Homo sapiens: one gene and its partner. The protein of the gene in region 1 purifies or fractionates together with the protein of each later gene. This does not show direct contact. Each region holds a gene or a part of one and is shown on either strand. Other genes may lie near its edges.

Evidence for each region. The genes of interacting proteins can lie anywhere in the genome.
Region 2: the proteins of GCDH (region 1) and KLHL8 purify together in Homo sapiens (affinity purification with mass spectrometry; one large-scale study listed by BioGRID and IntAct). This does not show direct contact.

What each region holds. Positions count from the first base shown.
Region 1 is NC_000019.10:12,897,330-12,900,499, reverse strand, and holds the end of GCDH (glutaryl-CoA dehydrogenase, mitochondrial isoform a precursor), read right to left. Parts: coding exon 3,072-3,170; intron 2,798-3,071; coding exon 2,637-2,797; intron 1,715-2,636; exon of another isoform or gene 1,160-1,714; coding exon of another isoform or gene 1,115-1,159; intron 1,033-1,114; coding exon 959-1,032; 3' UTR 801-958; coding exon of another isoform or gene 757-800; 3' UTR 501-756; downstream 1-500. Other genes in the region: SYCE2 (synaptonemal complex central element protein 2), read left to right, coding at 1-40, 380-496, 1,115-1,159. UniProt on the Homo sapiens protein: Catalyzes the oxidative decarboxylation of glutaryl-CoA to crotonyl-CoA and CO(2) in the degradative pathway of L-lysine, L-hydroxylysine, and L-tryptophan metabolism. It uses electron transfer flavoprotein as its electron acceptor. Isoform Short is inactive.
Region 2 is NC_000004.12:87,185,917-87,189,747, forward strand, and holds part of KLHL8 (kelch-like protein 8), read right to left. Parts: intron 1-3,831. UniProt on the Homo sapiens protein: Substrate-specific adapter of a BCR (BTB-CUL3-RBX1) E3 ubiquitin ligase complex required for The BCR(KLHL8) ubiquitin ligase complex mediates ubiquitination and degradation of RAPSN.

The DNA of each region.
Region 1 (3,170 bases):
CGTGGAGACTGTGTACAAAGACCTGTGTCTCCAGCCTGAGGTATGAGTAAACTCACAGGGGGGGCGCTGCCTGAGGAAGAGGACAGGGATGGCCCAGCCAAGAGTAAATGTGAACAGAAACCAGGCACCCAGCCCTGACCCCGCCAGGCCACAGTCCCTGCAAAGCCCTTGGTGCACTCACCATCTTGTTTGTGATCCCCTATAACATGGTGTGTCTGAGCTGAGAAGCCAAACCGTTGTCATGTCCCACTGTTGTATGAGCAGCTCTGTGGTGACAGAAAGGACAAAGTCCCTTGCACCCCTGCCACTCAGAAATCATCCCCTCTGCCCACAGCCCTGGCACAGACCGGCACTGCTAACCTGGGTTTCTTTTTTACAGCAGAGCCTAAGACTCAGATGGGGGCCAGACCACTCTAGGGGAAAGTCCCCACCACGTCCCGGCAACTCACAGCCCCCAGACGTGTTCGTTTCTTCTGTGGCTGAAACTACTTCTCAGGTGGTTACCAGTAAACCGGCCTGACACCTTGGGGTCAGATGTGCAGGTCTTTATTTTCCTCTCCCTCACTCTGCTCCAACACCCAGCATAAGGCACTACCCCCAGATGGGAGGGAGGGAGGGCGCACTGTGAACTCAGTGTGAGGGGGTCAGCTGCAGCAGACGGAGTTGCTTCCATGTCACTCTCCTCTCAAGAGAAGCTGCTATTTCAGGGTAAATGGAGTCTGCTCTCATCCATGGTTAAAAGTGGATTGAGACGCTCTACAGAGAATTCCATCTTCTTTTTAAGGAACACATCTGAACGACTTCAGAAGGGAAATTTTGATATTTAAAAATCAGTGTCTCTCACTTCCCACTCCATCCGCCACCTCCCTTTCTAAGCTCAGAGCACAGCGCTCCTACGGTCCAGCCAGGCATCTCTCCAGAAAGGGGCTTGAGAGTTTCGGGCCCCTGATGGAGCGGCTCACTTGCTGGCCGTGAACGCCTGGATTCCCGTGATAGCTCTCCCAAGGATCAGGGCGTGAATGTCATGTGTACCTGGACAAGATTAATACAGAGTCGGTTTGGAGTTTTCATAGCTCACAACTTCCCTTTAAAATCAATTTTCATGTATCCCCAGGCCACTGCTTCAGAAGTACAGACCAACAGAGATGGTGAATGCTGACAGCTGCCGGGAGACTCACGCCTTAGTGACAGTCTCCAGGAGAAGACTGTGAGGCCACCATTTGGGCCACACTGAGAAATTGTTTTTCATGGTTCTATAATGCATCTTGGCAGAAAAAAACAAAAACCCAAAGCTCCTTGTGCTGAACTCCCAAAATGTAGCAAGTCCAGCCCCTGCCATAGGCCCAGGCTTCGTGCTCCCCACCCTTGGCAAGTTCTCCCCACCCCCAGCCCCACAGTTTATTAAATGTTTGATTTTCAACCTGGCCACGCTTCCTTGCCACAGAGGCTGAAAGCACCCCTGAGCTCCAAGGAAACACAGCAAGCCCTTTCTTACCCTCGGGAGGGATAGGAGGGACAGCACATCGGAAGAGCAGTCACTTGCCTCAGCTGACCTCTGCCCATCTGAAGCCGCCTCTCCCAGAGAATCCCACACCCCATGCCCTGGTGTCTCATCCTTTGCTCCTCCCCAGCTCCTTGAAGCAGAAGGCAGATTGTAGCCTCCTTTTTAGAGCCAATTCTGTTTACTTCCTAAAGTACAAACCTATTTTTTTTAAATATAGATAGGGTCTCACTCTGTCACCCAGGCTGGAGTGCAGTGGGGTGATCATAGCTCATCATAACTTCTAACTCCTGGGCTCAAGCAATCCTCCTGCCTTAGCCTCCCAAAGCGCTGGGATTACAGGTGTGAGCCACTGCGCCGAGCCCCTAAAGCACCAAATCTGACTCATCCCTTCTCTGCATAAAACCATCTCATGGCGCCCGCTGCTTGTCCTCAGGGTCATTCTCACATTTGTAGGATCCCCCCACCCCCCAGATGCCAGATAGAGACAAGATCTGGGGTTGCAAGGTGCGCAGGGAAGGCACCCCTCCTGCATTTGCTGTTCTCTCTGTCTGGAAGCATCTCTGCCCGGGGGGTCCTCATACCTCCCTCTATTTCTACATAGCGCATGCTGGGTTTGCACTTTTTTTTTTTTTTTAAGTATCTTTTTCCACATCTGTCTTCCCACCAAGCAAGGGGTTCTGGACCCCCATGTAAATCACCATCAGTTACAGGGTGCAAACACCGTCATCTGAAGATGACTTTTGTCTCTTAACAAAATGGAGCGTTGATTCCTGCGTGTAGCTTCGCTCACTCCCTTGCGTCCACCAGCCTGCTAGGAGTCGGGCCTCACCCCTGGGCTGCCTTCGGAGCTTACCTGTCTCAGGAACATCCCTCCTCCCGAGCATGTGGGAGAAAGAGCTGGGAGCCCCTCGCAAGGCCTGATGGGGCCTCTGTGTGCTGCATGAAGCACTTCACTTCCACAGTCCCCATGTGAGTAACTCCAGATGAGGGACAGAGGGGTAAGGCTCGCCCCAGGTCACACTGTCACTTAGTGATAGGTGGAGTTGGACTCAGACCTGTCCCCGTCCCACCTCCCTGTACCCCCTCCCCAGACACTGAGGCCTCAGTGAGCCCTCTGAGGTCCAGCTCCTACCTTCGTAGGTGTTCACGGCCTCCAGGTTCATGGCGTGCCGGATCACGTGATACTCGTCAGAAATCCCATTCCCCCCCAGCATGTCTCGGGCCTGGCGGGCGATGTCCAGGGCTTTCCCACAGTTATTCCTCTTCAGCAGAGAAACCATCTCGGGGGCAGCCCTGGGAGTGGCACATGAGGGTAACAAGGACTGGGGATCCTGGCATCCCGATGCTCCAAGCAAACCTAGCCCGGGGTGGGGATTCCCTGATGCAGCCAAGCTCCCAATGAGGGACCAGTGGGGCTGTCCTCAGCCCAGCCCATCAAGGACAAGAGGGACAGCAGAAGGTTCAGGTCCCCAGGGCCACCAGGCAGGAAGGACCTTTCTCTCCAGGAAGGACACAAGGTCCTCCAGCCACCGCTGCCATCCCCCCGCCCCCACCACACAGCCCCTACTTGTCCTGGTCCTTCAAGCGGCCGAGCTGCAGGCAGGCGTGAAGGCCCAGGGTAATCTCAGTGAGCATGTCTGCCAGCTTCTTCTGAATCAGCTGGTTC
Region 2 (3,831 bases), on another chromosome or scaffold:
TAAGGCGATCCTTTGATCACTTACTTTCAAGTAGGCCAGTTTCTTAAAGTCAGGTAATTTTCATATTCCAAATTAACCACATATCATATTCATATATATATATACACATACTTTAAAATTAAAAAAAAATTTTTTTTTTTGAGACAAGGCCTTGCTCTGTTGCCCAGGCTGGAGAGCAGCGGCGCAATCTCAGCTCACTGCAACCTCTGCCTCCTGGGTTTAAGCAATTCTCCTGCCTCAGCCTACCAAGTAGTTGGGATTACAGGCGTGCACCACCACGCCTGGCTAATTTTTGTGGGTTTTGTTTTTTCAGTAGAGACAGGGTTTCACCACGTTGGCCAGGTTGGTCTTGAACTCCTGGCCTCAACTGATTCACCTGCCTCAGCCTCCCAAAGTGCTGGGATTACCAGTGTGAGCCACCACACTCGGCCTCTTTTATATATGTATCTGTAACATACACACAACAAACCATGATTTTCTATGTTATATTTCAGGGACATTTTGTGAATTAATACCAGCAAACATCAGTTAGCACTCATTACATGCCAACCACTATTGTAAGTGCTTTTTTTTTTTTTTTTGAAATAGGGTCTCACCCTGTTGCCCAGGCTGGAGTGCAGTGACGTGATCATGGCTCATTGCAGCCTCAACCTGCTGGGCTCGAGCAATCCCCCAACTTAGCCTCCCCAGCAGCTAGGACTACAGGCATGTGCCACCACACCCAGCTAATTTTTGTATTTTTCAGTAGGGACAGGGTTTTGCCATGCTGCCCAGGCTGGTCTCAAACTCCTGGGCTCAAGTGATTCACGCACTTTGGCCTCCCAAAGTGCTAGGATTACAGGCATGAGCCACAGAGCCTGGCCTTCTAAGTGCTTTTCATATACTAACTCAGTTGTCCCAACATCCCTATGAGTAAGTACTATTATTATCCACAATTTATCAATCAGAAAACTGGAGCAGAGAGTAAATATTTAGTAGTATTTACTATGAGCTCAACTGAGGTTTTTTTTTATTTTCTATTTACATTATCTTGAAATGATATAGCTCACATAAAAGCAGTAAAAAAAAAACACTGCAATCTCATCACCTTAATTATTGAAAAATCAGATAGCTTCCAACAGTATGCTATTACAAATAGCACACTAGTGAACTTCTTTGTAACTAAATCGTTATTCACATTCTCTATTATTCCAACAGATAAATTATTGTAAGTAGAGATGCTGCTTCAAAGGATACAATGTGAATATGTGAATACATAATGTCAAACTGTCCATTTCTGAGCTTCTTACAGTATTTGCACCATATCTTGAGTGTTGTTATTGTTGTTGTTGTTGTACAAAGTCTATGCTGCCCAGGTTGATCTCAAACTCCTAAGCTCATGCAATCCTCCCGCCTCGGCCTCCAAAAGTGCTAAGATTATAGGTGTGAGCCATTGTGCCCGGCCATAGTTGCCAATTTGATGAATAAAAAGATCTCATCTTTTTTTTTCTTTTTTGCTCTTAAGATTGAATCATTTATAAATTTTGAGCTATTTGTATTTCTTCTATGAACTACAAATTTTTTATTTATAAGTACTCATCATATAATCAGAGTATTAGGCATTTGTCATATATATTTCAAACTTCTCTTTTAGTTTGCTTTCAAATTTTATTCTCTTATATAAAAACCCTATGGATTTTTATGTAATTAAATGAAGTCTTTTTATTTATTGTTTTAGGTACCTGCTAGAAATGGGAATCATTCTAATATTCTATATTTACTTCACGTATTTTTTATACTACTTTTATGGTTTTATGTTTTACACTTAAATTTTTACTTACATCTGGAAGTTTTTGGTACTGAGTGGGAAGATATCTTCTTTTTAATACAGTATTTATCCCATTTTCCCAGGAGTTTATAATAATCAAATACAAGTAACAGTTATAGTACTATTTTAACAGTTTTCCTGTTTTCATGTAGTGTTTTGATTATATAATAAACAGTTGTATCTCATTATTTGAGAACTAATTTTAAAATGACAACTCCTAGAGTGTTCAAATGTATAAATGGTTTTGCTTATAAAAGCCCCTTCCTCAGTCTTTTTTCACTAATGTGGAGGAAGAAGCAGTATCACTTATTTCAGAAAGTACAAGACAATCATTTCTGTCTGTTATGCTATATTAAATTTTTTCACAGAACTCACAAGGCAGTATTTAGATTCCATTGAGACTAAAGTTGTAATGTAGACTATAACATAAAGCTTGGCATGTTTTCAAATTCACGTCAGCTCTAAAATGGGATCTGAAATCTGATACTAAATAACTTTTAAATAGCCTAAGCATATCCTTTAAAAAATTATTTCCACATGCCACCACTGGGATTCAGTTTCTATGCAAATATTTGTAAGTCTCACATGACTTAAACCTGCTCCATTAAATAACTTGCCAACACTCTCTTACATAATAGTATCATAAAATAGGGTTCTACAATTTCTAGATAACCATTATTTTAACACTTGCCATCCAAGCTGTACAAATCAATGGCCGGCAAGTCATTTTCATGTTGTTTTTAATAAGATTCTGTCCCTTTACAATTCCATTTGAGTCTTGATTCAAACAAACTAAAATGTGGCTATTTAACACATACACCCCTATGTACCCTTTTAGAATAAATATCCATCTTTATTTTATAAAGATCTTTAAGCCACATGTATAAATAGGAACAGCCAAAAATTTGGCTTTTTAATGCACTGATTCTCCTTTGATGTTATATAGTTAATTACATTCCTGAAAGTTTATTTGTACATTTTCTTTCTCTGGTACAAAAAAATAATTACCAATTACCAAAATCATTTCATTAGAAATTTGAAAATGAAAGGAATCAAAGTCTAAAGACCTGATGTTTAAAATTGGATGAAAAACACACAAGCTACATAATATTAGACATTACCGTGTATTTAGAATTATATAAATACTATATGTCCCTGATACTACTTAATTTTCTAATTTACATTCTTTCTTTGTTAGATCAGTGAACGTGTGACTAATTCAAGATAGTATTACGAAAGAAAAACCTTAGACAATTAAATTTAACGGAGTTTAACTGAGCAAAGACGGATTCAAGAATTGGGCAGTCCTGGAACAAGAATAGGTTCAAAGACACTGGTGCTGGTGCATAGTCGAAAATTATTTACGGACAGAAAAAGGAAGGTGACACACAGAAAACGGAAGTGAGGTACAGAAACAGACGGGTCAGTTACAGCTCAGGGTCAGCCTTACTTGAACACAGGTTGAACAACTGGTTGCCTTTAATTGGCTGAACCTCAGTGATTAGCACAAGAGTAGGTTGCAGTCTGTTTACACAACCAGTTAGGTTACAGTTTACTGTGTACAGAGAAACTTTTAGGCCAAGTTTAAAATACATAAGGTGGGAGCTTCAGGCTAAACTTAACAGTACTCAGGGAAAAATCATGTCACACTTCAGTATTAAAATATGTAGAATATCAACATTCATTAAATGATTCCTTAGACTTTTGTTTAAAAAGCTTGAAATACCAACTATTAATAAAAACTTTGAGTAATTTTCCAGAGATTAGCCAATATGAATGGAAATACAATGAAAATAAGGCTTTTGGATTAGTAAAGCACTTGACTATCAACATACAAAGCATTCCTAACTCCACTAGTTAGGACTTCATCATGGCTCGAGTGCCACTTGCTCGAGCCCGCTCCCACTCTGTGGAGTGTACTTTCATTTCAATAAATCTGTGCTTTTGTTGCTATTGAAAAAAAAAAGAGTTAACATTTATTTTGTAAACTATCTCCACTTCACTTAAAAAAGTTTAGTAAAGGC